3 separate regions of the Homo sapiens genome follow, and all the other regions are linked to region 1. Evidence: fine-mapped expression QTL. A gene starts in region 1. Each other region holds a variant in brackets. All regions are shown on one strand. Distances are between the middles of the regions. Region 1 holds the start of LNCOG (lncRNA osteogenesis associated). Region 2 overlaps LNCOG (lncRNA osteogenesis associated). Region 3 overlaps LNCOG (lncRNA osteogenesis associated).

Region 1 (10,354 bases):
TAACATGTATTACTTTTATAGTTTAAAACAGCAATAATAATAAAGCATTAAATTAAAAAAATCGTGAACAATTTTTGCTTCAGATTCTTCTTTGTAGATGATTGGTCTTAACACAGCATCTCCCAAACATTCCTTCCTTCCCATGCCCACAAAAGTTCCAAGCTAATTCCCCATTCTTGTGCCAGATAATAAACTAATTTACACGAATGTGCGAATGGTTGATGTCATCTTCACTGTTACTCTTCACAGGGACATTTGAATATTTTGAACTGCTGTTGACAGGATGTAAGCTGTAACTTCCTTCATCTGAATCCTTCTCTAATTTCAGACAGAGTTGAGAGACTGTGGGAGCAGCTTTAGGGAAAGGAGTCCTTCTGGTAGCCCTCACTCTTGGACACATCACTGAACGCATACTCCAAGTACATGTGTCCAGCATCCATCAGGGGAAAGAGTCCCTGTACAGTTCCTTATGATTACAATTTCAGGGGTCCCTGTTTCTTTCCATGTTGAAAAATTAAAAGGAGTTTCTACAGGTGCATCATCCTGTTCCAATGGAATCATCCAAACAGATTCTAGGAGGACATATTTCATTTTCTGGGCAGCAAAGGCGGGAAGAGGATTTCATTTCTGTTTTCTTCCCCCTCACTACACATAAAGTTCCTGAATCTACAGAGAAATCGATGATTGCATTTTTACATTTCTCCTAGTGGACGGGCCACCCGGATTTATTCTGTGAAAATAGAACTGCTTGGACCATTCTCAACAAGCTGGGGCAAAGTGTCTATTAATAATGTTGGCAATATCTCCTAAGCTGATGTTCATGTCAGTGCTAATCCCCCTGAAAAGGCCCTGACATCCCAGGTCCTGCTTCTGATGGTAATAGTAGTTACAGGCATGCATTGAGGCAATTGCACATTCACAATGCCCAAGAACTGCTCCTGGAAATGTTTCTGTTGATAGGTTGGTGTTTTTCAGCAGACTCATTTGGGTACTTTGAGTTGTGGTGAAGATGTGTGAAAATGATTTCATCTACATTTCAGGGTTACTTTAAATTCTGGGGGGAAGTGCCGCCAGCAAGATTCTCGTCCCCACCTCACCCTACTGAGACCCTCACTTAAGGTCAAGAAGGCATCTGGTTGGCCCGAGCTGGATCCAGGGATTTGTTCTTATTTCTCTTGAGCTCAGTGCTGTCTTTGGCTCCTCACTGAATGTTGCTGCTTCGTGGATGTCCCCACAACAGAAACCCATTTAACAAAAAGAGAGAGCCAAGAATATGAGGGTCATCACAGCACTCTTCACCTATATCCTTTAGAACAGTGTTCTCATCTAGAGCCAATTTTGTCCCCCAGAGAACATTTCGCAATGTCTGGAGACATTTTTGGTCATCAGCACTGGGAGGTGGAGGAGCAGATGCTGCTGATATTTAGTAAATAGAGGTCAGGAATGCTGCTAAACATCCTACAATGTGAGGACAGCTCCCCACAACCAAGAACTATCCAGCCCCAAATATCAATGATGACAAAATCAAGACACTCTGCTTTGAATCAGTCTATTGCTGGGGTGTAAGTCAAGTCTCCAGGGGGACTAGAGATTTTCATGTACTTTACTCTCCATTCCAGAAACTAAATGGGACTGAGTGTCTCTTGAGTTCTGTGATACCAAATTAGCATTAGAATAAAATCTTTCACAAGCATTAGATACATCACCTTCAGAGAATATAAATGAGACATTTCTGAATCTGAATAAAGACATCTCTTTTGGTGTTATTGCAGCATTGGACTAAACAAGGTAGAACCGTGTCACAACTCCTCTCAAGGGTTATTACCTCCTTTCAAGGAGTAATCTGTGGGCCACTTGAATTAGAGTCGCCTGGAAAGCTTATTAAAAATGCTGACTCCTGAGCCCCATCCTCTGCCTACTATATCAGAATCTGAGAGTTCTACATTCTCTCCGCCCTCACCTCATCAGCCTCCACCACATAGGAATGACCAAATGCCTATGTGGTTCTTAGAACACTGCCTGACATCCAACAAATGTTAATGATTAATATTATTTACCATGATCATTGTTGGAGTATAACAAAAAATAAATATGTGGTCTTTATTCCTTCCTAAAACCCTTGGCATTTACTGTTGCTTGTATGCTACTTAGATGACTGTGGAGGCAACCTAGTTAGCTTCAGTATTGGGGCTGGTTGCCAGAAAAACTTTCTGATTAGAAGGTTAGAACTTTTAGCCCCATCCCCTGTCACACCTCTACACACAGGAAAGGGGTTGGAAATTGAGTGCAATTATCAACAGTCAATGATTTAATCAACTATGCCTACATGATGTGTGGTGGACATGGAAGGTATGAGCCTGCCCAGAAAAGACATGGACTCTCAGCATCCCAAGCCTCTATACCTTGCCCTAATGATCATCTCTCTCATTTGGCTTTTCCTGAATTGTACCCTTTATAAGTAAAGCATTTTCCTGAGTTCTCTGAGTCACTCTAGCGAATTATCAAACCCCAGTTGGTGGGGGGGAGTGTCATAGGAATCCCCAAACCAGTAGTCAGTTGGCCAGAAGTGTGGGTAGCCCTGGGACTTCATTTGTGGCTGACATCTAAAATGGGAGTAGGCTTGTGGTCCTGAGCCCTCAACCTATGAGGTCTGTGCTAACTCTGGGCAGTTAGTGTTAGAACTGGATTGAATTGTTGGGCACCAAGTTGGTGCTGGAGAATTGGAGAATTTGTTGTGTTGAAATGACATATTTGTTGTCATAAACACACACACACACACACACACACACATAACTATCTTAGCCTAAGTTACAAAGAAACCATGGGAAGAGAGAATGAATCAGATACCAAGATAATAATACAATAAAATATTTAATAATTTATAATATTAATAAAATCTTAATAGGATAACTTTTCAATAATATCTTCAGCAAGTTAGCATCTGTGTGGTGGCTCACATCTATAATCCCAGCACTTTGGGAGGTCAAGTTGGAAGGACTACTTGAGCCCAGGATTTCAAGACTAGCCTGAGTAGCATAGTAAGATATGCTATCGCGACAAAAAATTAAAAAATAAGCTGTGCATGGTGGTAGATGCCTGTGGACCCAGGCTGAGATCCCAGGTTGAGGATGCAGTGACACTGTCTCAGAAAAAGAAAGAAAAAGAAAGAATTTTCTTTTTTTTTTTTTTTTTTTTTTTGATGGAGTCTTGTTCTGTCATCCAGGCTGGAGTACAGTGGCGCAATCTCGGCTCACTGCAAGCTCCGCCTCCCAGGTTCATGCCATTCTCCCGCCCCGGCCTCCCGAGTAGCTGGGACTACAGGCGCCCACCACCACGCCAGCTAACTTTTTTGTATTTTTAGTAGAGACGGGGTTTCACCGTGTTAGCCAAGACTGTCTCGATCTCCTGACCTCATGATCCGCCCGCCTTGGCCTCCCAAAGTGCTAGGATTACAGGCATGAGACACCGCATCTGGCCCTTTTTTTTTTTCTTTCTAATGAGGTCTCACTATGTTGGCCAGGCTGATCTCAAACTCCTGGGCTCAAGTGATCCTCCCACCTTGGCCTCCCAAAGTGCTGAGATTACAGGTATGAGCCACCATACCCAGCTCACTTTTATTCTAATTTCTGATTCCATATTGATATTGTGCTTAGATATATCAACTGTAGAGACCCTATATTCAAAGCAAGATATTTTTAAAATGTCAGCCTCCCCCAGAATGTTCCAAGATATTAAAAGAGACATTAACTCAGAATCTTTATTTCATCAGGAAAAATTTCTTCTATAAACAGTTAGTAACTCCCAAGGGCTGTCACTGGTACAATACTAAGAATATTGCCTCTGCAGAAATAAATGAATAACACATTTTTAGATGTTGGAATGATGTTATCTGCACATTATCTGTGGGAGGACAGAAGAGTCTCCATAGTCTCTACACATCATTTGCTGCTGCTTCTTTTTTTTTTTCTTTTTTGAGATAGAGTTTCCCTCTTGTCACCCAGGCTGGAGTGCAGCGGCACGATTTCAGCTCACTGCAACCTCCGCCCCCCTGGGTTCAAGTGATTCTCCTGCCTCAGACTCCCAAGTAGCTGGGATTACAGGTTCCCACCACTATACCCAGCTAATTTTTGTATTTTTAGTAGAGATGGGGTTTCACTATGCTGGCCAGGCCGGTCTTGAACTCCTGATCCACCCGCCTCAGCCTCCCAAAGTTCTGGGATTACAGGTGTGAGCCACCGCACCTGGCCATCATTTGCTTCTCAATGGCAGAACAACAATATGTGAACAGCAAGAGAGAAAATGTAAGACTAATTGCTTCAGGAAAGATAACTTTGGTACTGCAATTTAGCCATGAGGGACAAGTCTTAGTGGACAGCTGGTTCTTCATCCATCGGAAGACTGTGGTCATCTGTTCATTCTACTCTTTCTTCTCTGTGGATGAAGTTTTCCGTCATTGTCTTCACACTACCTTGACTTTCTCTGGATTCTATTGACTTAGACAGATTACTGGCTCCTAGTGGACTACTGCATCTGAGCAAATGCTTACTCCCTATTTAATTGTACCTGTCTTTACCTATTTATTCAGAGGAGCCAGCTGCCCTGGACCCCATCCCAATCTCTGTCAAAGGTCACTCTACTTCCCAACCCAATGTATCCCACATTCCTAGAAGACAGAGGCTAGGGAGAGATTAGAAGAGAGAGGTTAGAATGCCAGGATTAAAAGGCAGCTTGTTTTCTTCTTTTTCACATGTCAAACTGTTAAATGCCATTAGGCCAACTCACTTCCCAGCATGTGACAAGGACACTGCTGGCAGGGAACATCTCCTTTCTCTGACCCTCTTTTGCTCTTCTTAATCCTCAAATATTGAAGTTTTTATCTTCAGCAAATGAAGAGGTAATTTAAACTGCTTACAGAGAGAAACCGAATGGGGGAAAGGGTATATGTTGTTAGTAACCCCCCACAGTTTAAGTGTTTTTAATTGTACATATAGGTTTTCTGTTAGAAAATGACTAGAATTTTCTAAGGCAGCACTGCCTAATAGAAATATAGTGTGAGCCACACAATATAATTTTTAAGTTTTTAGTAGTCATTAAAACAAGTAGAAAGATACCAGTGGAATTTTAATAACTGTATTTCTATACTGCTGCTCCTTCTATTGAATCTAACTTAAAATTCCATGTAACCCTCACATGTGGGTATGAAAAACATTAACAGGAAATGCTAATATAGGGAGTCAGTGAAGCTGGGGTAGGAAATTGATGATGTGATACCGGAAGTGATCTGGCAGGGCTTTAAAGTAATGCCAGAGGTCCTTCCAGGCAGTTCTCAACTTGCTCCTTGGCTGTTCTCCTGACACTTAAGTCAGAGCATTCTGTAGCTGTATTTTACAGAACTGTAATTGCACAGATTGTTCCTCTTACAAGAGAAATATCCAGAGCTCTAAGAAAACAACTGATGAAAACGGTATGTACCCATTTAAGAAAATCTGCCCTCGAGATATGATGTTATGATTTATTTGAATCTTACTGTGAATTAAAGCACTATCTCAGAAGGGTTTGCATTTAGATAATGACTGTGATTGTCATTTGGCTGGCTTGAAGAAATTCAAGAAATTTAAGCCATTTTTGAGCAGAGGAGGAATTAATATGGGGGGAAGAGTATCTTTCTGTTTCTCTGTTTGCTCTGATAGGGGCCACACAGGTCGTTGCATAAGGTAAACACTAACTGTGGGGCCCATGTGATTTGTTCAGCTTTAGAAAAATAATAAAGGGGCACAGTGAAGCAGAGGTGTGGTGCTGAGCACAGGTGATGGGGTAGAGGATGACAGAGAACAATATTTCAACAAATTGAATTTAAAGATCTCATTAGCTTTTATTAGCAATTATGAGTTGGTCAGCATCCCATTCATAAAATGGAAAGACATTCCTCCAGGGTTGGCAGAACAGTTGATTTCTGTAAGGTAGCTTAAGCAAGAAGGAAATGGTGTCATGCCAAAAGTGGGTTGGTTAACATCAGATGGCTTCAGTTAACTTTCCTTGTATGGGTTAAAGCAGAGGGCCTTTCATGTTATGTCAGCTCAGGTTGACTTGGTGGCTTTGGATTGGTTGCTGAGAATCTCCTAGATTTTTTTTTTTAACTGGCCCATTTCTAAATTCAGTTTAATTATGTGGAAGCTAGAATTTATTTCATTTTGATTTGGTCCCGGCTGATGGAGCCTAGTGCAGGAATCAGTCCAAAACAGTGGCCTCCCATATTTTTTTTTTTCCTTTTTTTTAGACTGAGTCTCACTCTGTTACCCAGGCTAGAGTGCAGTGGCATGATCTTGGCTCACTGCAATCTTCACCTCCCGGGTTCAAGCAATTCTCCTGCCTCAGCCTCCCAAGTAGCTGGGACTACAGGTTTATACCACCATGCCTGGCTAATTTTTGTATTTTTAGTAGAGATGGGGTTTCACCATGTTGGCCAGGATGGTCTTGAACTTCCCAGCCTCCAGAACTGTGAGCAACAACTTTCCATTGTTTATAAATTACCCAGTATATACTATTTTGTTATAACAGCCCAAATAGACTGAGTCATTCACTATTTTTTTTTTTTTTTGAGACGGAGTCTCGCTCTGCTGCCCAGGCTGGAGTGCAGTGGTGCAATCTTGGCTCACTGCAACTCTGCCTCCTGGGTTCAAGTGATCCTCCTGCCTCAGCCTCATGAGTAGTTGGGACTACAGGTGCCTGCCACCACGTCTGGCTAATTTTTGTATTTTTAGTAGAGATGGGGTTTCACCATGTTGGCCAGGCTGGTCTTGAACTCCTGACCTCAAATGAGCCACCCACCTCAGCCTCCCAAAGTGCTGGGATTACAGGCGTGAGCCAATGTGCTCATCCAGCTTCAATTTCCAACCCCTTTCCCTTGCATAGTGATAGGAGTGGTGGATGGGGCTGAAAGTTCTAACATTCTAATCAAAAAGTGCTGGGATTACAGGCACTTTTTGATTAGAAGTGCCCGGACCCATAAATAGTATTTAACAATGGTAACTATGGTAGGCAAACATCAAAGCACACTGTTGCATTTTTTGGAGATTCTCTAGGTAGGCATCCAACTCTGGGAAAACAGAGGAAGACCATCATCATCAGAAAATAAATGTTCTAAAAAACTGTCTCTGAAAAGTGTTGCTCTTTAGTCCCTTGCTCTCCATGCTGGAGTTAATGAGTGTGAAGTCCTTTGAGAGTTACCTGTGCAGTGGAAATGGAAGGAGGAAAGTGCTCATTTACCTTTAAGGGGACAAAAGTGGAGCTCCACAAACAGATGCAAAGCAGCTGGAAGAGGGGTAGGGAGGAGGACTTTTGTTTAGAGAGTTTCCTTTTTCCAGATCTACTTTAAGTCTTTAATCCATTTGGAGTTGATATTTGTATATGGTATGAGATAAGGATCTAATTTCATTCTTCTGCATGTGGATATGCAGTTTTTCCAGCACTATTTATTGAAGAGACTCTTCTTTCCCTATTGTGTATTCTTGGCACCATTGTTAAAGATCAGTTGACTGTAAATACATGGATTTACTTCTGGGATCTCTGTTTCACTGGTCTACATGTCTGTATTTGTGCCAATACCATGCTATTTGGATTACTATAGCTTTGTAGTGTATTTTGATATCAAATAGTATGATGCTTCCAGCTTTTTTTTTTTTTTCTCTCAATATTGCTTTGGCTACTCAGGGTCATTAAGGATCCCATATGAATTTTAGAATTATTTTTTCTATTTCTGTAAAAAACACTGGAGTTTTGATAGAGATTGCATTGAATCTGTAGATTGCTTTATGTAGATAGTATAAACATTTTAACAATTCTTCCAATCTGTAAACATAGGGTATCTTTCCATTATTGGTGTCTTCGATTTCTTTCATCAGTGTTTTATAATTTTAACTGTACAGATCTTTCATGTCAGTTAAATTTATTCCTAAGTGTTTATTTATATTTTTATTTTTATTTTTATTTTTTTGAGACAGGATCTTGCTCTGTTGCCCAGGCTGGAATGAAGTGGTGCAATCACAGCTCACTGCAGCCTCAATTTCTTGGGCTCAAGCAATCCTCCCACCTCAGCTCCCCAAGAAGCTGTATCTACAAGTGTACACCATCACACCTGGCCAAATTTTAAAATTTTTGTAGAGACAAGGTCTCACTATGTTGCCCAGGCTGGTCTCCTGGGCTCAAGCAATCCTCCTACCTCAGCCTCCCAAAGTGCTGAGATTACAGGTGTGACCCACTCCACCCAGTACTAAGTTTTTTTTTTTTTTTTTTTTTTTTTAATTAAAGCTATTGTAAACGGGATTGTTTTCTTGATTTCATTTTCAGATAGGCTGTTAGTGTATAGAAATGCAGCTAATTTCTTTATGTTGATTTTGTGTCCTGCAACTTTACTAAATTTATGTATTAGTTCTTATAGATTTTTGGTGGAGTCTTTAGGGTTTTCCATATATAAGATCATGTTATCTGCAGAGGCAATTTCACCTTAATGGAAAAGACCAAAGTAATTTTTACTCTTCCTAACCTTTCATAGTAATAAATGACATTTATCGAGAGCCCACCACACAGCAGGCACTGTTCTAAGCACTTCACAGGGATCATCACATCAAATCCCCACAATAACCCTTGCGGTTAGCACTGCCATTATTATCATTTTGGAGATGAGGATTGCCCACCACTCTACCAGCAAGTGGCAGATCTAGAGTAGATAGGAGTGCTGTATTTGGAAGAGCACGTTCCTGGGGTAAGAGTCACAGTCCTGCCTTGTTCCTGACTAGTAAATGAGACTCTGAGGACCTGGATGGCTTCACACAAAAGTACAGAGTAGGCTGAGGGCTGAAATGAAATCATGGTTGAGATATTCTAGACCCCTTTCATCAAGTTCTTAAAAGCCCGTACTCTCCTTAGAATAAAAGGAGTTTAAAGGGAGAAACAAGCAATAGAACTATTTTCTTCCATTTTTCTAAAATTTTATTATTTTCTAGATCAATAGTCTTATACTCTCAACTCTTTTAAGGAAAGAGGTTATAGGATATTTTGTATAGGTCAACAATCTCTTGTCAGAAATGGTTTTGGCTGGATAATTCATAATTTAGAATTTTAGAGATTTTTAGAAAGGTTATACATTCATATATTATATTTTACATAATACCAGCAGTGGAGTCTGCGGATGATATGGACTGAATTGTATCCCCTCAAAATTCATATGTTGAAGCCCTCAACTCCTGTAATGGTTAATTTTATGGGTCAAACTGACTAGGCTACGGGGTGCCCAGATTAAACATTACTTCTGGGTGTGTCTGTGAGAGTGTTTTCAGATGAGATTAGCATTTGAATTGGTGGACTCAGGAAAGTAGATTGCCCTTGTCAATATGGGGAGGCCTCATTCAACCCGTTGAAAGCTTGATAGAACAAAAGCAGAGGAAGGGATTTGTCCCCTTCCTGCCTGCATGCTGGAGCGGGAACGTCGGTCTTCTCCTGCCTTTGGACTGGGATTCACAGGATCATAAGAAATGATACGGATTAAAAATTATTTTTTTTATAAAATTAAATAAAAACCAAACTTTCTCCTGTCATTCGTTTTATTAACATGGATTTTTGTCTAAACAATTTCTGTTTGAGTAAATGTCAACAATCTTTCCATCATCATTGAAAGCATATTACTCCAGGCTAGCTATAAACTACCTCACATTAAGTAACATCACCAGATCATCTGTGGTGTTTTTTTCACCTATATTTATAATATCATCATCATTATCTTCTGTAATCCTCACACTTACTATATTTGCAACATTTCAGCAATCTCCCCATCACTGAAAATATACAACTGCATCACTACCAATGATCAGTATTTCTTTACTATCAGCTTCTTCTAACAACTTCAGCCAATAAAAACTTAGTGTAATAATAAAGATAGACATAATTGTTTTTTCATCAATGGCCCCACATATTTCTAAGTTTGTGTTGGTGGTTTTATTTTCCAACATTGGAGTAGCAAAATTCTGTTCCTAGCATTTGTTGATGTTGACTTAATAATATCATTCTGAGCATTGGCAGCTCTGTAAATGGTATCCTTGAGTATAACCTCTTTAAGGAAGTCTTAGATTCCTGGCTTCTGTTCACTGAAGCAAACATACAGTTTGGAAAGAAGTGCTCAGACTTGCTTTTCAGTCTCTAAAGCTCTTTGGCTCCAAGGCTACACTCCTGATGTCATGTTGCAAGGAAAAGAAAAACTGAAAACATTATGCAAGAAGTTCAAGAGGAGGGTTTGTAAAGCCATGGTCCAGAAGTAATAGAACTTTACATTTTTCTTCTACATCAGCTTGCTGGTAATAAG
Region 2 (10,354 bases), 33 kb after region 1:
CCAGATTTCTTCATCCTACATAACTAACTTTTTACCCTTTGACTTCTGTCTCTTCATCTCCCCACCCCTGTTCTATTCTGTTTCTATGCATTTGAGCTTTGTTTTTCTTTTTAGATTGCACATAAATGAGATCATATAGTACTCTTCTTTCCATGTCTGGCTTATTTCACTTAGCATAACGTCCTCTAGGTTCAACCATGTCACAAATGGCAAGATCTCTCTTTTTTAAGGCTGAATCATATTCCATTGTAGACATGTACCATAAATTCTTTATCTATTCATTCATCAATGGACACTTAGGTTGTTTCCATATCTTGGTTATTGTTTCTAGATCTTGGATATTGTGAATTATGCTGCAATAAATTATGCTGCATAATTATAATGCATAAACATGGGGGTGGTAATTTCATTTCCTTTGGTTATGCACCCATAGATAGATTGCTGGATATATGGTATTTCTATTTTTAGCTTTGAGGAGCCTCTGTTCTGTTTTCCATATTGATTATACTAATTTACATTCCCACCAACCATGTACAAAGGTCTCCTTTTCTCCACACTCTTGCCAAAAATTGCCTCATCTTTTTGATAATAGCCATTTTAAACAGGTGTGAAATGATATTGCACTGTGGTTTTGATTTGTATATCCTTGATGATTAGTGATGTTACCACCAAGGAATGCTTTTATCCTTTCTCATACTTGCTATCTTTTGAAAGAATTTTTTTTAATCAACCAGAAGTTGTTAAGTAACTGATTCATTTCTTATGTGATCCCCAGTGTTACTAAACTGGATTAATATAACTATTGCCCAAAGAAGCTTGCACAGACTTTATATAAGAAAATATGCAACAGCTATTAGAGGCTTAAACTAAGAAAAACAGCATGCGGACACTATTATAACCATATTGGAATGTGAAATTCTAGGTTGAACACCACTAGACAAGTTAGTCTTAAGGTTCCGTCTAACCCTCTCTGAACCCATAAGGTAGTATAGAGTTTCTACTGTATACCTTTTGGAGGATTCAGTAATTTATTTTGCCTTTAAAGGTAGCAATTCAATGTAGTTAGGAAGATAAAGCTATGACAGGAAGTAATTAGAGACCTATTAAGCACTAAACTGAGCATCAGAATATTTAATACAATAAGCAATCAGAAAAGAGATTTAGTGTGGGCTGGGGTAGTCAGACTCCATCAATGTTGAGAAGAGATAGACTTTCTCTGGTTCTTTAATGATAATTACATTTTAAATAACCTGAAAGGGCAAATGAGGGCATTTAAGGATTGGCTAAGAGAAGGACTTTATCATAGGATGCAAAGAAGAGAAGCCAACAGAAGAGAATGAATGCTCTACTTTTTCCTATCTTTTTTTCCCGAGAAAAAAAAGTGTCCATTTCTTCGCCCTTACTTCTGGACTCAGGGGATAAAGCCCAAAGTGTTTTGTGATTTAAGTCATTCTTTCCTCTCTAGTTTCATTTCCAGCCACACCCTCTCCCAAACTCCATACTCCAGTCATCTCAGAAGATGGTACCTGATCCACCAAGTTTCTCAAGCCCCAAACCCTAAGCGTCTTCTTGATTCCTTCCTTCCCCTCCCTCTCCTCTCCTCACCAGCCAATCTTCCAAAGACACCTGTAGAGTACATCTCTAAATTTCCACATTGTCTTTATACAGTGCAAATCCTATTGCCACTTCTCTGCTTAAAATATTTAATGGCTCTTCATAAGCTACAGAATAAAGTCAAAACCTCTTATGGTGCCATAGCAGACTCTTGATTATCTAGTCCCTGATTACTTTTCTAATCTCATCTCCATTGGTTTCCTTCCTCCAAGGCTTGATGGAATGTGTACGAATTCAACTGCTAGAGAAATCATCGGAGGCAGCAAGACTAAGTATTAGAGGATAAGAGCTTAAATTAAGGCAATAGGAATGGGGATAGTAATAAGGATATGGATTTGAGAAATATTGAGTAGAACAGAGACAACTTAGTGACTAGTTAAATGTAAGGATAAAAAGAGGCAAAGCAGGGATGATGATGATGACAACGATGATGGCAATAAGTAAATGACACCAAACATTTTTCTGTGCAGTTACAACATATAAAGCTTTGTTTTTGAGTGTTTAGGTGTGTTAACACGTTAAAATTTCAAAACGATCCTATGGGATAGAAGCTGTATTTATCCACATTTTACATATAGGAAAACTGAGGCACATAAGTTTAATAGCTCGTCGAAATGCACACTGGGTACTTTCATACAGTCTAGCTTTAAAACCATGCATGATTAAGCACAAAACAGCCTCCTTTGCCTTGTCAAACTGATTGCCATCTCCTGAACATGCCATACTCCTTTGAAACCGTTGTCTTCCCATTCCTTCTGTGTGAAATGCCCTTATCCCTTCCTTTGAATGGAAACCTTCTTTACGACACATCAAATGTTACCTCCTCTGGGAAGTCCTCTCTGTGCCTTCCTCCAGCAGAGTTCTTTACCCCCTATTCTGTTTATATTATGCCATTTGCATGGCTCTATTGGGGAATATATTATACTATGTGCAGATTGGGGACATATAATACACTATGTGCCCATTACTTCTTAGCACATCTATTCCCACCCATGAACTAGACTATGAGCTCTAAAAAGGACAGAATCTGTGTCTCATTTATCTCTCAAGCCCCAGGATCTAGCATATTTCCTGAGCTATAGGAGGTACTCAATGCTTATTGAATGAATGAATGAGTGAATAAATGAATAAAAATATGGCCGGGCACAGTGGTTTAGACTTGTAATCCCAGCACTTTGGGAGGCCAAAGAGGGTGGATCACTTGTGGACAGGAGTTCAAGACCAGCCTGACCAACATAGTGAAACTCCATCTCTACTAAAAATACAAAAAAATTAGCCAGGCGTGGTGGTGCACACCTGTAGTCCCAGCTACTCAGGAGGCTGAGGCATGAGAATTGCTTGAACCCAGGAAGTGGAGGTTGCAGTGAGCCAAGATCGCACCACTGCACTCCAGCCTGTAGAGCAACAGAGCAAGACTGTCTCAAAAAAATGAATAAAAATATGGAGGTGGGAATTATCCACTCTGCTGTGTTACTAATGGTGATGATGTGAGCTCTTAATGCAGGATTGAGACAGATGAACATCAGTGGAGGGACCAGAAGAATCAAGTGGACAGGTTAGAGATAAACTTGAGACTGGCATGACTGAAGAGGTTAGCAAAATGACACCCAGAATAGCCAAGTAGGGGATGTCAAAAGTCTGAGGATGTAACTGTGGAAGATAGATGCAACAGGAACGTCTTAAGATCAGACCTGAAAGGAGTAACAAACAGATGTTACTCTTATTTCTGGGCACTGGTTTCAACAATTCCCCTGCCATTAAATTCCTGGAATATGGCTGCTGTTGACTTATTCCCCTTTTCCTAGAATTTCAGAAAGTATGTGAATTGCAGAATAGACACCATTACCAAAGAGTTTTCTGGAAAAGAAAACAACATTTGCAAGTAGCATGCAACAAAGATCAAGTCAATGTTTTTGTAGAAGCCAAAATTGCTTGAACCCCAAAATGTTATCTGAATACTTATCCCATTCACATGGCTGATCTTTACCCTCCATGTCTCCTCACCCACCATTTATGGAGGGACCTCCCCTGTGTGCTTGGTTGCTGGACTTATTTTGTAATCTGCTTCTTAGAGATCCCAGCCTTCTAATAAAGGGAATGGGTTGGTTTCTTTTCTCTCCATGTGTCAATATAATCTTCCTTTGTCTTTACACATTTTTACGTGCTGGCTGGAGAGCCACTTTGGTTTTTTGTTTTTTCTTTTGGTTTGTTTTTTGTTTGTTTTCTGAGACAGGGTCTAGCTCTGTCACCCAAGCTGGAATGCAGTGGTGCAATCATGGCTTACTGCGGCCTCAACCTCATGGGTGTCAGGCCTCTGAGCCCAAGCCTGCACATATACATCCAGAGGGCCTGAAGCAAGTGAAGAATCACAAAAGAAGTGAAAATGGCTGGTTCCTGCCTTAACTGATGACATTCCACCATTGTGATTTGTTCCTGCCCCACCTTAACTGAGTGATTAACCTTGTGAAATTCCTTCTCCTGGCTCAGAAGCTCCCCCACTGAGCACCTTGTGACCCCCGCCCCTGCCAATAAGAGAACAACCCCCTTTGACTGTAATTTTCCACTACCCACCCAAATCCTGTAAAACAGCCCCACCCCTATCTCCCCTCACTCTCTTTTTGGACTCAGCCCACCTGCACCCAGGTGAAATAAACAGCCTTGTTGCTCACACAAAGCCTGTTTGGTGGTCTTTTCACACAGACATGCGTGACATTTGGTGCTGAAGACCCAGGTCAGAGAGACTCCTTTGGGGGACCAGTCCGCTGTCCTTGCCCTCACTCTGTGAGGAGACCCACCTACGACCTCGGGTCCTCAGACCAACCAGCTCAAGGAACATCTCACCAATTTCAAATCGGGTAAGCGGTCTTTTCACTTTTCTCCAGCCTCTCTCACTACCCTTCAATCTTCCTCTCTTGCTACCCTTCAATCTCCCTGTCCTTCCAATTCCAGTTCTTTTTCTTCTCTAGTAGAGAAAAGGAGACACATTTTATCCGTGGACCCAAAACTCTGGCGCCAGTCATGGACTTGGGAAGACAGTCTTCCCTTGGTGTTTAATCACTGTGGGGACGCCTGCCTGATTATTCACCCACATTCCATTGGTGTCTGATCACCACAGGGACGCCTGCCTTGGTCATTCACCCACATTCCCTTGGTGGCAAGTCAATCGCGGGGACGCCTGCTTTGGCTGCTCACCCACATTGCAGCCCAGGGCTGCTCCCCACCCCCCTTCTCTGTGTCTCTACCCTTCTTTTTAAACTTGCCTTCTTCACTGTGGGCACGCTTCCACCCTCCATTCCTCTTTCTTCTCCCTTATCCTGTGTTCTCAAGAACTTAAAACCTCTTCAACTCTTGCCTGACCTAAAATCTAAGTGTCTTATTTTCTTCTGCAACACCGCTTGGCCCCAATACAAACTTGACAATGGTTCTAAATGGCCAGAAAATGACCCTTTTGATTTCTCCATCCTACGAGACCTAGATAATTTTTGCCAAAAAATGGGCAAATGGTCTGAGGTGCCTGACATCCAGGCATTCTTTTACACATTGGTCCCTCCCTAGTCTCTGCTCCCAATGCAACTCGTCCCAAATCTTTCTTCTTTCTCTCCTGTCAGTTCCTTCAGTCTCCACCCCAAGCTCTGAGTCATGTGAATCCTCGTTTTCTACAGACCCATCTGACCTTTCCCCTCCTCCCCAGGCTGCTCCTTGCCAGGCCAATCCAGGTCCCAACTCTTCTTCAGCCTCCACTCCCCCACCCTATAACCCTTCTATTACCTTCCTTCATCACGCCTGGTCTGGCTTACAGCTTCATTCGGCGACTAGCCCTCCCCCC[CT/C]GCCCAACAATTTCCTCTTAGAGAGGTGGCTGGAGCTGAAGGCATAGCCAAAGTTAATGCTCCTTTTTCTTTATCCAACCTCTCCCAAATCAGTTAGCGTTTAGGCTCTTTTTCACCAAGTATGAAAACCCAGTGCATGGCCCGTTTGGCAAGAACCCTTAGACACTTTACTGCCCTAGACCCAGAGGGGCCAGAAGGCTGTCTTATTCTCAATATGCATTTTATTACCCAATCCCCTCCTGACAGTAGAAAAAGCTCCAAAAATTAGATTCTAGCCCTCAAAACCCACAACAGGACCTAATTAACCTCGCCTTCAAGGTGTACAATAATAGAGTAGAGGCAGCCAAGTAGCAACTATTTCTGAGTTGCAATTACTTGCCTCTACTGTGAGAGAAACTCTAGCCACATCTCCATCACACAAGAACTTCAAAACGTCTGAACTGCAGTGGCCAGGTGTTCCTCCAGGACCTCCTCCCCAAGGAGCTTGCTTCAAGTGCCAGAAATCTGGCCACTGGGCCAAGGAATGCCCGCAGCCTCGGATTCCTCCTAAGCCATGTCCCATCTGTGCAGGACCCCACTGGAAAATGGACTGTCCAACTCACCCGGCAGCCACTCCCAGAGCCCCTGGAACTCTGGCCCAAGGCTCTCTGACTGACTCCTTCCCAGATCTTCTCGGCTCAGCAGCTGAAGACTGACACTGCTTGATTGCCTGGGAAGCCTATAGGACCATCACAGACACTTTGGATAACTCTTACAGTGAAGGGTAAGTCCGTCCCCTTCATAATCAATACAGAGGCTACCAACTCCACATTACCCTCTTTTCAAGGGCGTGTTTCCCCTGCCTCCATAACTGTTGTGGGTATTGATGGCCAGGCTTCTAAGTTCTCTTAAAACTCCCCAACTCTGGTGCCAACTTGGACAACATTCTTTTATGCTCTCCTTTTTAGTTATCCCCACCTGCCCAGCTCCCTTATTAGGTTGAGACATTTTAACTAAATTGTCTGCTTTCCTGACTATTCCTGGGCTACAGCCACACCTCATTGCCGCCTTTCCCCCCAATTCAAAGCCTCCTTCACATCCTGTCCTTGCATCTCCCCACCTTAATCCACAAGTATAGGACACCTCTACTCCCTCCTTGGCGATGGATGATGCACCCCTTACCATCACATTAAAACCTTATCACCCTTACCCCGCTCAACGCCAATATCCCATCCCACAGCACGCTTTAAAAGGATTAAAGCCTGTTATCACTCGCCTGTTACCACATGGACTTTTAAAGCCTATAAACTCTCCTTACAATTCTCCCATTTTACCTGTTCAAAAACCAGACAAGTCTTACAGGTTAGTTCAGGATCTGTGCCTTATCAACCAAATTGTTTTGCCTATCCACCCTGTGGTGCCCAACCTGTACACTCTTTTGTCTTCAATACCTTCCTCCACAACTCGCTATTCCATTCTTGATGTTAAAGATGCTTTTTTTCACTATTCCCCTACACCCCTTGTCCTAGCCTCTCTTTGCTTTTACCTGGACTGACTCTGACATCCATCAGTCCCAGCAGCTTACCTGGGCTATGCTGCTGCAAGCCTTCAGGGACAGCCCTCGTTACTTCAGCCAAGCTCTTTCTCATGATTTACTTTCTTTCCACCCCTCCACTTCTCACCTTATTCAATATATTGATGACCTTCTACTTTGTAGCGCCTCCTTTGAATCTTCTCAACAAGACACCCTCCTGCTCCTTCAACATTTATTCTCCAAAGGATATCAGGTATCCTCCAAAGCTCAAATCACTTCTCCATCTGTTACCTACCTCAGCATAATTCTTCATAAAAACACACGTGCTCTCCCTGCCAATCATGTCTGACTGATCTCTCAAACCCCAATCCCTTCTACAAAATAACAACTCCTTTCCTTCCTAAGCATGGTTGGATACTTTCGCCTTTGGATACCTGGTTTTGCCTCCTAATGAAACCATTATATAAACTCACAAAAGGAAACCTAGTTGACCCCATAGATCCTAAATCCTTTCCCCACTCCTCTTTCCATTCCTTGAAGACAGCTTTAGAGACTGCTCCCACACTAGCTCTCCCTGCATCCCAAACCTTTTCATTACACACAGCCAAAGTGCAGGGCTGTGCAGTCGGAATTGTTACACAAGGACCAGGACCGTGCCCTGTAGCCTTTTTGTCCAAACAACTTGACTTTACCGTTTAGGCTGGCCATCATGTCTCTGTGCAGTGGCTGCCACCACCCTAATACTTTTAGAGGCCCTAAAAATCACAAACTATGCTCAACTCACTCTCTACAGTTCTCACAACTTCCAAAATCTATTTTCTTCCTCCCACCTGATGCATATACTTTCTGCTCCCCAGCTCCTTCAGCTGTACTCACTCTTTGTTGAGTCTCCCACAATTACCATTGTTCCTGGCCGGACTTCAATCCAGCCTCCCACATTATTCCTGATACCACACCTGACCCCCATGACTGTATCTCTGATCCACCTGACATTCACTCCATTTCCCATATTTCCTCCTTTTCTGTTCCTCATCCTGATCACACTTGGTTTATTGATGGCAGTTCCAGCAGGCCTAATAGCCACTCACCAACAAACGCAGGCTATGCTATAGTGTCTTCCACATCTATCATTGAGGCTACTGCTCTGCTCCCTCCACTACTTCTCAGTAAGCTGAACTCATTGCCTTAACTCAGGCCCTCACTCTTGCAAAGGGACTACACGTCAATATTTATACTTACTCTAAATATGTCTTCCATATCCTACACCACCATGCTGTTATATGGGCTGAAAGAGGTTTCCTCACTACTCAAGGGTCCTCCATCATTAATGCCTCCTTAATAAAAACTCTTCTCAAGGCTGCTTTACTTCCAAAGGAAGCTGGATTCATTCACTGCAAAGGCCATCAAAAGGCATCAGATCCCATTGCTCAAGGTAACACTTATGCTGATAAGGTAGCTAAAGAAGCAGCTAGCATTCCAACTTCTGTCCCTCACGGCCAGTTTTTCTCCCTCTCATCAGTCACTCCCACCTACTCCCCCACTGAAACTTCCACCTATCAATCTCTTCCCACACAAGGCAAATGGTTCTTGGACTAAGAAAAATATCTCCTTCCAGCCTCACAGGCCCATTCTATTCTATCATCATTTCATAATCTCTTCCATGTAGGTTACAAGTTGCTAGCCCGCCTCTTAGAACCTCTCATTTCCTTTCCATCTTGGAAATCTGTCCTTAAGGAAATCACTTCTCAGTGTTCCATCTGCTATTCTACTACTCCTCAGGGATTGTTCAGGCCCCCTCCCTTCCCTACACATCAAGCTCAGGGATTTGCCCCGGCCCAGGACTGGCAAATTGAATTTTCTCACATGCCTCAAGTCAGGAAACTAAAATAACCTCTTGGTCTGGGTAGACACTTTCACTGGATGGGTAGAGGCCTTTCCTACAGGGTCTGAAAAGGCCACCGCGGTCATAATTTCTTGGTTTGGCCTTCCCACCTCAATACAGTCCGATAACGGACCGGCCTTTACTAGTCATATCACCCAAGCAGTTTCTCAGGCTCTTGGTATTCAGTGAAACCTTCATACCACTTACCGTCCTCAATCTTCACGAAAGGTAGAACAGGCTAATGGTCTTTTAAAAACACACCTCACCAAGCTCAGCCTCCAACTTAACAAAAAGGACTCTGTCAAGAATAGAGCCCAAAAACTCACCAACCAAACAAGTAATTACGCTGAACCCCCTTGGACACTCTCTAATTGGATGTCCTGGGTCCTCCCAATTCTTAGTCCTTTAATACCTGTTTTTCCCCTTCTCTTATTCAGACCTTGCGTCTTCTGTTCAGTTTCTCAATTCATACAAAACTGCATCCAGGCCATCACGAATCTTTGTATATGACAAATGCTCTTTTTAACAACCCCACAATATCGCCCCTTACCACAAAATCTTCCTTCAGCTTAATCTCTCCTACTGTAGGTTCCCACGCCGCACCTAATCCCACTCGAAGCAGCCCTAAGAAACATCACCCATTATCTCTCCATACCACCCCCAAAAAATTTTCACCGCCCCAACATTTCAACACTATTTTGTTTTATTTTTCTTATTAATATAAGAAGACGGGAATGTCAGGCCTCTGAGCCCAAGCCTGCACATATACATCCAGATGGCCTGAAGCAAGTGAAGAATCACAAAAGAAGTGAAAATGGCTGGTTCCTGCCTTAACTGATGACATTCCACCATTGTGATTTGTTCCTGCCCCACCTTAACTGAGTGATTAACCTTGTGAAATTCCTTTCCTGGCTCAGAAGCTCCCCCACTGAGCACCTTGTGACCCCCGCCCCTGCCCATAAGAGAGCAAACCCCTTTGACTGTAATTGTCCACTACCCACCCAAATCCTGTAAAACAGCCCCACCCCTATCTCCCTTCCCTGACTCTCTTTTTGGACTCAGCCCACCTGCAACCAGGTGAAATAAACAGCCTTGTTGCTCACACAAAGCCTGTTTGGTCGTCTCTTCACGCGGACGTGCGTGACAATGGGCTCAAGTCGTCCTCCCACCTCAGCCTCCTGAATAGCTAGGGACTACAGGCATGCACCACCATGCCTGGCTAATTTTTGTATTTTTTGTAGAGAAAGAGTTTCACCATGTTTCCCAGGCTGGTCTTGAACTCTTGAGCTCAAGCGATCTGTCTGCCTTGGTCTCCCAAAGTGCTGGGATTACAGGGATGAGCCACCATGCCCGGCCTTGAATAGCCACTTTGGATCCCCATTTGAAACTCCCTTCTGTTGGAATTCCAAAAACTTTTCTGCACAGTCCTCTACCCAAATGCCCTTGTGTAATATACACCTCTGTGTTACAGTCTTGTTGCAGACAAAGTGCAAATACTAGGGTTCAGGTGAGGCCATT
Region 3 (10,354 bases), 44 kb after region 1:
GTGGTAATAATAATTTTTTTTTTTTTGAGATGGAGTCTCGCTCTGTCACCCAGGCTGGTGTGCAGTGGTGCAATCTGCGCTCACTGCAACCTCCACCTCCCAGATAAAAGTGACTCTCGTCCTTCAGCCTCCCAAGTAGCTGGGATTATAGGCACTCGCCACCACGTCTAGCTAATCTTTGTATTTTTAGTAGAGATGGGGTTTCACCATGTTGGCCAGGCTGGTTTTGAACCCCTGACCTCCGGTGATCCGCCTGCCTTGGCCTTTCAAAATGTTGGGATTACAGGTGTGAGCCAACATGCCAGGCCTGTGTTAATAATAATTAAGACATTTTATATGTTATATAGATCATATACTGTATTATTACAATAAAGTAAACTAGAGAAAATAAAGTATTATTAAGAAAATTATGGGCCAGACACAGTGGCTCACATACCAGTTGTTGCCATACCAGTTGTTGGTTTTTTTGAATGTCATTCCTGTAGACGTGTGCTTTGGGAAAATTTTGCTGGCAACAGTGTCTAAGGGGTTAGAGAAGGGAAGACCCCAGAGCCAAATAATTCAGCAACAAGTCTGTTGTCTTAATCAGGAGGTCAGGTGGTAAGCGCTTGGTCTAATGTGACAGAGGAGAGAACTAATCTGAGCTGCCTGTCATCTTAAGAGGAACAAAGCCTCCTCCAGCGTGTTTAGGACTCAACCTCTGGAAAGTATGGACAGGTAGAAACCTAGTCCCACTCCCAGGGTAACAAGGCCAGAACAGGACCACCAGCAACATCAGCTTATTACTAAGTTAGAAAATTTATAAATTCAGAAAATTTGTAAATTGTCTAGTTCAGTTCAGTCTGGGATGAATTTGAGCCAACAAGTGAGCCCTTACAGGGCAAAAGGGATACGAGATCACAGAATGAAGAGGGTGCAAGGAAAGGGACCAGCAGGGGAAAGTGTGGGGGATCAAACCAGAAAAGGACAGTCATCAGGCAAATTATGATAGAATGTCATCAAGAAGAATGAAGACTGGAAATAATTATACATTTTTTGATTGGGGGTGACTAGAAGTGTCACTGTAGGGATTAAGATGGGAATGGATGAAGAAGAAAATGCATAGTATGCACTGTGGACTACTGACTCCAAATGACCAGGACTGGGAAACATTAACCCATGAGCTGGCTCAAAAACAGCAGAAACCTATGCTGTGGTTTGGTGGCCGTGGTTCTGTGCAAATGAAAACTCAAGAGAACCCACACTGGGCTGTGACCAGACCTTCTGTTTTATACCTATGTTCTTGATGGTCATCTTTTATAATTATTGACAGCTGGAGGGCAGGGAGAGCATTCTTGCTTTTGTGTCAGAAAACATTCAACATGGAATAGGAGCAGCACTTCATCTGGACGTTAAACCTCTGGTTAAGGATTCCATGCAATAACTGGGCTCAACTCTGAATATATCCTGGATATATTAAATATATGTTAAAATATATTAAAAATATATATTTAATATATATCAGGATCTCAGCCTCCTCCTGAGTGAGGCATCGGAAATGTCTGATCCAGTAAGCAGGCATTGTGTCACACCAGCTGTCACACCGGGACTTCCCCAGCAGGGACAGAATTCCTAAGGGATTATCTCAGAATCACAGAAGTTTCAATTATGTAGGACCTGAAGTTACTCTCCCTCGTTCCTGGAAAATTTTAGGTCCAGGTTTACTAGTTCTATCTCTACAGCTCTAGTCATGATTCTTGGGGGGTTTAGTGTCCATGAAGATGATTCTTCTAGTTCCCTGGCCTTTAAAATTTCCTCAACTTCTTCACCTTTAATGATTTTGTCCTCCACTTCTTAGCCACCCGCTTACTCCCTTAGTCATATACACGTCTAGACTTCATGAATGGCAAGAATTGTATCTACTCCATAGTCTTTAAAATTTTTTTAAGAGACAACAGGGTCTCGTTCTGTCATCCAGGCTGGAGTGCTGTGGTACAGTCATAGCTCATTGCAGCCTTGAACTCCTGGGCGAAAGCAATATTCCTGCCTTAGCCTCCCGAGTAGCTAGGACTACAGGCATGAGCCACTGTGTCCAGCTAATTTTTTATTTTTTATACAGATTTCATTATGTTGCTCACGTTTACTCCATAGTCTTACACTCAAACATCTAAATCTTAAACTGTCTCATATTTTTGAGTCACTTCCTCTAGTACCCCAATTTTAATAATTCTTCAACCCAATGAGGATCTCTAAACTACTGATCCTATTACCTATTTACTCCCCCAAATGCCCTATGTCCTCACTTCCATAGCCAGGACTAGAGGGAGACAAGGGAGAGCCTAGGGTGCAACATCTAAGGAAACACACACTCTCAGGGTCCTGCGAGAGCAGGTGGGCACTTGCAAATTTTGTCTCTTTAAATGGTGCACCCTAGGCACCTGGCCTGTGCCTCACACTAGCCCCAGTCTAACTTACTTCTTACCTAAGCTAGACAGCATAATCCATTATAATAAATACCCAGTGCCTCTCTCCTGTTTATCTGGCAAAACACCACTCTGGTTAAATCCATGCCAGCATCTGAGACATTGCACATGGCTGGAGAAAAACACCCACCCTTGCTCACAGTTCTCATGGACACTAACCTCACAAGGACTTCTCATGCTCCTCAGGAATCTCTCCACATTTCCTAGTCCAGCGGTTCTCGAAGTGAGGTTCCTGGCCCAGCAGCATCAATATCGCCATGTATTAGTCTATTTCCACACTGCTATAATGAATACTACCTGAGACTGGGTCATTTATAAAGAAAGGAGGTTTAGTTGACTCACAGTTTCAAATGGCTGGGAAGGCCTCAGGAAACTTACAATTATGGTGGAAGGCAAAAGAGAAGCAGGCACTTTCTTCACAAGGCAGCAGGAGGAAAGTGAGAAGAACCGAACCATATCACACCAGGAACTTGTTAGAAAAGCAAATTCTCAGGCTCCACCTCAGACCTCCTGAATTAAAAACTCAGAAGGCGGGGCCTGTCAGTCTGCTTTGTCAAGTCCTCCAGGTGATGCTGATGTGCCGTCAAGTTTGAGAGCCACTTCCCTAGTCAACTTATTCTCCCCATCTTGAGACAATTTCATACTTCTCCCCTCTCCTCCAAATTCAGATGGCCCTTCCCCTGTGACACCCACAACCTCCTATCTGAATTTTTTTTTTTTTTTTTTTTTTAGATAGGGTCTTGCTCTGTCACCCAGGCTGGAGTGCAACGGTAAAGCTCACTGCAGCCTCCACCTTCCAGGCTCAAGTGATCCTCCCACCTCAGCCTTCTGAGTAGCTGAGACTATAGACACGCACCACCACACTTGGTTAATTTTGTTTTTTTACATTTTTTGCAGACAGGGGCTTGCTATGTTGCTTAGTTTGGTCTTGAACTTCTGGCCTCAAGCGATTCTCTTGCCTTGGCCTCCCCAAAGTGCTGGGATTACAGGTGTGAGCCACTGTGCCTAACCTCAAATTCTTAATTTACTGAGAAAATCAGAAGATAACCTTCACCTGCTTCCACCACGGATTCTCCTGAGGAGGCTGTGCCTGTGCCTCACACCTGGCCTTCAACCTTCCTGCTACCATCAACCACTTGGGCTGTCCTTAAAGTCCTGTGAAGTGGGTCCCAGCCCCTCTCACCTACTCAAGCACTCAGCTCCTGCAGTTGTGCCCTCTTCCTTCCTACTGGGTAATTCCCATCAGTATTTCATATCTCTTAATCTTTTTTTAAAAAGAAAGAAAAAAAAGAGAAATATTCCCTTAAATCCACATCTTCTTCAAGCTACCACCCAATTTCCCTGATCTCCTTTAAGCCAAAATTCACAAGCCATATCTTTAGTTTCTGTCTCCAGCTCCTCTCATGGGTCATTGTCTCATGGATCTACTCCAGCCAGGCCATGATGCCCACAACTTCACTGACAATGCTATTACCATGTGCTTCCAATTGCTGAGCCCTATGGTCAATTCCCAGCACTCATCTCACCTCCTTGGGGCCCTTTCTGCAATTTCCCTTTGGGTCGTTGACATGCTTTGGCTACACTCACTTCCAAATCTCATCTCGAATTGTAATCGCCACATGTCAAGGGAGAGACCTGGTGGGAGGTGATTGGATCATAGGGGCTGTTTCCCCCATGCTATCCTCATGATAGTGAAGGAGTTCTCACGAGATGTGTTTTTTTTTTTTGTTTTTTGTTTTGTTTTGTTTTTGTTTGTTTTTTTTTAAGTGTCTGGAGTTTCCCCTATGGACGCT[C/G]TCTCCTGCCACCATGTAAGTCTTGCCTCTCTTTTCGTTTGCCTTCCACCATGATTGTAAGTTTCCTGAGGCCTCCCCAGCTATGTGGAACTGTGAGTCAATTGAACCTCTTTTGTTTATAAATGATCCAGTCTTAGGTAGTATCTTTATCACAGTGTGAAAGTGGACTGATACAGATGTCATGCCACTTTGAGTTCCCTTCTTACTTCATTGGCTGCTTCCTCTCAAACTCTTTTGGTCTGCATCTTCCTGCCATCTGAATATTGGAGCTCCCAGAGCTCCAGCCTTGGCCACTCTCCCTTTCTGGCTATACTCACTTCCTAGGGGTCTCATACAAGCCCATGGCTTTAAATGCTATTTATATACTAATGACTTAGCCCTCCCATGAGTTGTATAGTCAGTCACTCTGCAACATGGCATTGCCAATATATCTACAAATGAGCTCAATATTCCTTGCCCCACCACCTCAACCCATTCATTCTCCAGCCCTATGCAGCTCTGTCAGTGGCAATGCCAGCCTTTTAGTGGCTCAGGACAAATCTCTGAAGTCATCTTGGATTCCTCTACTTCTCTCACATCCTACATGCATTCCTTTAAGTCCTTTTGGCTCCATCGAAAAAAATGTGTCTGGAGCCTGACCACTTGTCCCCACCTCCACAACACCTCCACACCCAAGCCACCAGTGTCTCTGTCCTAGATTATTTCAGTAGCCTCCGAATGAGCCTGTCAGTCTTCACTCTTACCCCCACAGGCTATTTTTCACACAGCAGCTGAAATAATCCTTATAAAGTATAAACCAGATCATATTACTTTTCTGCTTGGAGCCCTCCAGTGACACATCATCTCAGAATCAATCCAACTGCTTGGCTATGGCTGACAATGGGCATCACTTCCTTTCACTCTCTGAGACCTCTGGCACCTTGCATTGTCTGGATGGGCTTGGTACTTGTATTACCAGAAAGAGGTCCTGATCTAGACCCCAAGAGAGGGCTGTTGGATCTCATGCAAGAAAGAATTCAGGGCAAGTCCATAAAGTGAAAGCAAGTTTATTAAGAAAGTAAAGAAATAAAAGAATGGCTATTCCATAGGCAGAGCAGTGGCCTGGACTGCTCAACTGAGCATACTTATAGTTATTTCTTGATTATATGCTACACAAGGGGTGGATTAATCATGAATTTTCTGGGAAAGGGGTGGGCAATTCCTGGAACTGAGGGTTCCTCTCCCTTTTAGACCATAGGGTTAACTTCTTGACGTTGCCATGGCATTTGTAAACTGTCGTGGTGCTGGTGAGAATATCTTTCAGCATGCTAATGCCTTATAATTAGAGTATAGTAAGCAGTGAGGATGACCAGAAGTCACTTTCATCACCATCTTGGTTATGGTGGGTTTTAGCCAGCTTCTTTACCACATCCTGTTTTATCAGCAAGGTCTTTATGACTTGCACCTTGTGGCCAACCTCCTATCTCATCCCATAACTAAGAAAGCCTGACCTCCTGAGAATGCAGCCCAGTAGGTCTCAGCCTTATTTTACCCAGCCACTTTTCAAGATGGAGTCTGTTTGGTTTAAATGCCTCTGACGCTTGTCGTTCCCTGTGCTGGAATGTTCTTACTCAGATACCCACGCAGCTGCCTTCAAGTCTCTGTTTAAATCGTATTTCATGAGAAAAGCCTTTCACTTCCTTTTAGACAAAAAAGCGCCACTGCAGGGAGGAATGCCAGGGTCCCATAGAGGGAGACCGACAGTGAAGTGGAGCCTGCCATGAATTCACCAAAGGCCATTCTCCCTTTCTTCCAGAAGAACAGCATTTAGCTGGGCCTATGGCTACCTACCTAAAGACTGCACCTCTTAGTCACCCTTGTGGCCAGGTGTGGCCACGTGACAGTGGAATGTAAGTGGAAGTGATGTATGCACTTGGGTTCATTGGTTTAAAAAAAAATATGACCGCCCTCCATTTCCACTCTTTGTCTTATCTGTGAATGGGAACATGGCTGTGTCTGCAGCCCGACTTTGTGCAGCAAAGGACAAGGCCCTAGGGGAAGGTGGAGAAACAAGATGGAACAACTTGGACCCAACAACTTGGATCCCTATGTGGCCATGTGGAGTCATCTCACCCACCTGGGCCACTCACCCCGAAGACTGTTGTGTGAGGGTGAAATAAACTTCTGTATCACTAGCCCCTGCATTTCAGAAATTCTTTGTTATGGCAGTTTTGCCTTTATCCTAACACAGACAGCAAAGTATCTTCTGTGGCCCCATGACTAATTTCGTTGTTTAAACTCATTATAAAAACTATATAAATAAAATATTAAAAATCAAATAAAATAGCAAGATAACACTGTGTAACTATCCAGTTTTAGATGTTATTACCTTTTTGGCATATTTACCTCATCTATTTTCTCCAGGGGTTTTTAAAGAAGAGTCATGCTTGTTATTTTAAATTATCTGCAGTGCTCCTTGGTCTTATAAAACTATGGGTTATTTCAAACTTCGGTAAATGTCTGATACACATGAACTTCTTGCATTGTTGAGGAAATCAGAGAAAAATGATGCTGTTTTTCCCTTGTAAGTTGACAATGGATGGAGATGAAACCACCTTTGCAAAATTATGGCAATAAGAGAAATTGGACATGGCAGACTCCATCTTGCTTTTAGCCTCACAGGTTGGCTGTCTTGGCTCATTCCTGGGCATAAGCCAAGCTAACTTTGGCAGAAATTGAGTTTATAGTGTAAACGATAATAGCCTTTCCCCAAAACTAAACTACCCTTGTAAAATTAATGAAAGGCCACCAAGTTAGGAGGATGAGAAGGGCCTGAATGCCTGAATTCAGCCATTATTCTGGAAGTCACAAGATGTGCAACCTCCCCAGTTACTCCTGTAAATAACTTCAGTATTGTAGAACCTAAGATTGGCCTTTTGACAGCCTTTTGCATTTCTGACAACTAGATGGCCCCACGCAGACCCGTGACTCAACCAGTCCTATAGCCTTCATCCAAAAATGGACTCAGTGCATGAGGACTGTTTTCCACACCCTTATGATTGCATCCCAAACCAATCAGCAGCACCCATACCCTATCCCCTGCACACCAAACTATCTTTGAGAAACTCCTAACCTCTGATTCTTTGGTGAGATTGATTTAAGTAATAACTCTGTCTCCCACATGGCGTGGCTGGCGTCGTGTCAATTAAACTCTTTCTTTACTGCAATGCCATGGTCTCTATGAATTGATTTTGTTTTGCAGTGGGCAGGAAGAACCTGTTGGACAGTAACAGAGAGAAGAGAAGAACCATAAGAAGTGGAATGTGAGGTGGATTGAGAGTTTAGTGGGACCAGGAAATCTAAGCAGGAGTGACCCCAGCAACAGAGGCACCTTAGGGTTTGCAGAAATCATGGGAAAGGCACTGAACTTTCCACAGTATGTAGGATAAGGACTTGAGTCTTTTTTTTTTTTTTTTTTTGAGACATTGAGACAAGGTCTCTTTGTCACTCAGGCTGGAGTGCAGTGGCATAATCATGGTTCACTGCAGCCTCGACTTCCTGTGCTCAAGTGATCTTCCTGCTTCAGCCTCCCAAGTAGCTGGGACGACAGGCAGGTACTACTATTCCCGGCTGGGTTTTTTTGTTTTTTGTTTTTTTTTTGTTTTTGAGACGGAGTCTTGCTCTTTTGCCCAGGCTGCAGTACAGTGGCATGATCTTGGCTCACTTCAACCTCTGCCTCTTGGGTTCAAGCGATTCTCCTGCCTCAGCCCCCCAAGTAGCTGGGATTACATGCACCTGCCACCACGCCTGGCTAAATTTTTGTATTTTTAGTAGAGAAGGTGTTTTGCCATGTTGGCCAGGCTGGTCTCAAACTCCTGACCTCAAGTGATCCACCTGCCTTAGCCTCCCAAAGTGCTGGGATTACAAGGGTGAACCACCACACCCAGCCCATGCCCAGCTAATCAAAAACAAATTTTTTTTTGGTAGAGATGGAGTCTAACTATGTTGCCAAGGCTGGTCTCAAATTCTTGGGCTCAAATGATCCTCCTGCCTCAGTCTTCCAAAGTGCTGAGATTACAAGCATGAGCCACCACACCTGGCTGCCATTTTTATTTTAACATTAAATGTATACATATACTACCCAAGGCTGGAAGACATAGGGACACCAAGATGACAGTTAGTGTGTGCTTTGTATATGTAGGTATGCCTCAGAGATATTATGGGTTTGGGTCCAGACTACTGCAATAAAGCAGATATCACAATAACGTGAGTCACAAGAATATTTTTGTTTCCTTGTGCACATAAAATTGTGTTATTCTACACTGTAGTCTATTAAGTGTGCAATAGCATTATGTCTTAAGAAAGCAATGTATATACCTTAATTTAAAAAATGGTTTATTGCTGAAAAATTTTCATGATCATCTGAGCCTTCAATGACTTCCGTAATCTTTTTGTGGGTAGAGTCTTGCCTTGATGTTGATGGTTGCTGACTAATCAGGGTGGTGGTTGCCAAAGGATGGGGTAGGTGTGGCAATTCTTAAAATAAGGCAGCAATGAAGTTCTCTGCATCAATTGACTCTCCCTTTTATGAAAGATCTCTCCATAGAATGGAATGCTGTTTGATAGCATTTTATCCACCATAGAAGTTCTTTCAAAATTGGAGACAATCCTCTCAAACCTGCTACTGCTTTCTGCTTTATCAACTAAGTTGATGTTATCTTCTAAATCTTCTGTTGTCATTTCAACATTGTACATGGCATCGTCACCAGGACTAGATACCCTCTCCAGAAAGCACTTTCTTTGCTCATCCATAAGAAGCAACTCCTTGTCCATTCAGGTTTTACCTTGAGATGGCAGCATTCAGTCACATCTTCAGACTCTACTTTTGATTCTAATTTTATTGCTATTTCCACCTCATCTGCTGTGACTTTCTCCAGTGAAGTCTTGAACCTCTGCAAGTCATCCATGAGGGTTGGAACCAACTTATTCCAAACTCCTGCTCATGTTGGTATTTTGACCTCTTCCCATGAATCACAAATATTCTTAGTGGCAACCAGAATGGTAAATTCTTTCCAGAATGTTTTCAATATACATTGCCCAGATTCATCAGAGGAATCCTTACGTGTGGCAGTTATAGCCTTAAGAAACGTTTTTCTTAAGAATAAGTCTTTAAAGTTGAAACTACTCCTTGATCCATGTGCTACAGAATGGATATTATGTTAGCAAGCATGAAACAACATTAATCTCTTAGTACATCTCCATCAGAACTCTTGGGTGATCAGAGGCATTGTTAATGAGCAGAAATATTTTGAAAGAAACCTTTTTTTCTGAGCAATAGGTCTTAAAGGGTGGGCTTGACCAGGCATGGTGGCTCATACTTGTAACCCAATTATTTCAGGAGGCTGAGGCGAGAGGATCACTTGAGCTCGGGAGTTCAAGATCAGCCTGGACAACATAGGGAGACCCCATCTCTACAAAAAACTAAAAAGTAATAAAAATTTTTTAAATTAAAAAAAGAGTGGGCTTAAAATATTCAGTAAAAGATGCTATAAACAGATGTGCTGTCACGCAGGCTCTGTTGTTTCATTTAGAGCACACAGGTAGAGTAGATTTAGCATCATTCTGAAGGACCCTAGGATTTTTTGAATGTTCAATGAGCATTGGCTTCAACTTCAAATCCCCAGCAGCATTATCCCCTAACAAGAGAGCCCATCCTTTAAAACCTGGAAACCAGGCATTAACTTCTCTCCAGCTATGGAAGTTCTAGGTGGCATGTTCTTCCAATAGAAGGCTGTTTCATCAGCATTGAAAACCTGTTGTTTAAAGCAGCCACCTTCATCAATGATCTTAGCTAGATCTTTTGGATAACTTGCTGCAGCTTCTGCTTTTGGAGAAAGTGCTTCACCTTGCACTTTGATGTTATAGAGATGGCTTCTTTCCTTAAACCTCATGAACCAACCTTTGCTGGCTTCAAACCTTTCTTCTGCAGCTTCCTCACCTCTCCCAGCCTTCATGGAATGGAAGAGAGTTAGGGCCTTGCTCTGAATTAGGCTTTGGCTTAAGGGAGTGTTGTGGCAGGTTTGAAATTTTATCCTACCACTAAAACTTTCTCCATATCAG

What was found.
Region 2: its variant is fine-mapped to the expression of LNCOG in skeletal muscle (GTEx, PIP 0.91).
Region 3: its variant is fine-mapped to the expression of LNCOG in spleen (GTEx, PIP 0.98).

What each region holds. Positions count from the first base shown.
Region 1 is chr12:76,254,518-76,264,871 of GRCh38, forward strand. It overlaps LNCOG (lncRNA osteogenesis associated), which reads left to right and starts at 5,366. Exons shown (of 4, transcript NR_146531.1): 1 at 5,366-5,464.
Region 2 is chr12:76,287,802-76,298,155 of GRCh38, forward strand. LNCOG (lncRNA osteogenesis associated) reads left to right here. Exons shown (of 4, transcript NR_146531.1): 2 at 4,315-4,469; 3 at 6,012-6,204. Among named protein-coding and RNA genes, the nearest start is that of LNCOG, 33 kb to the left of the region's middle. The variant CT/C (reference allele first, on the strand shown) is at 5,441.
Region 3 is chr12:76,298,533-76,308,886 of GRCh38, forward strand. LNCOG (lncRNA osteogenesis associated) reads left to right here. Exons shown (of 4, transcript NR_146531.1): 4 at 5,942-7,437. Among named protein-coding and RNA genes, the nearest start is that of LNCOG, 44 kb to the left of the region's middle. The variant C/G (reference allele first, on the strand shown) is at 4,256.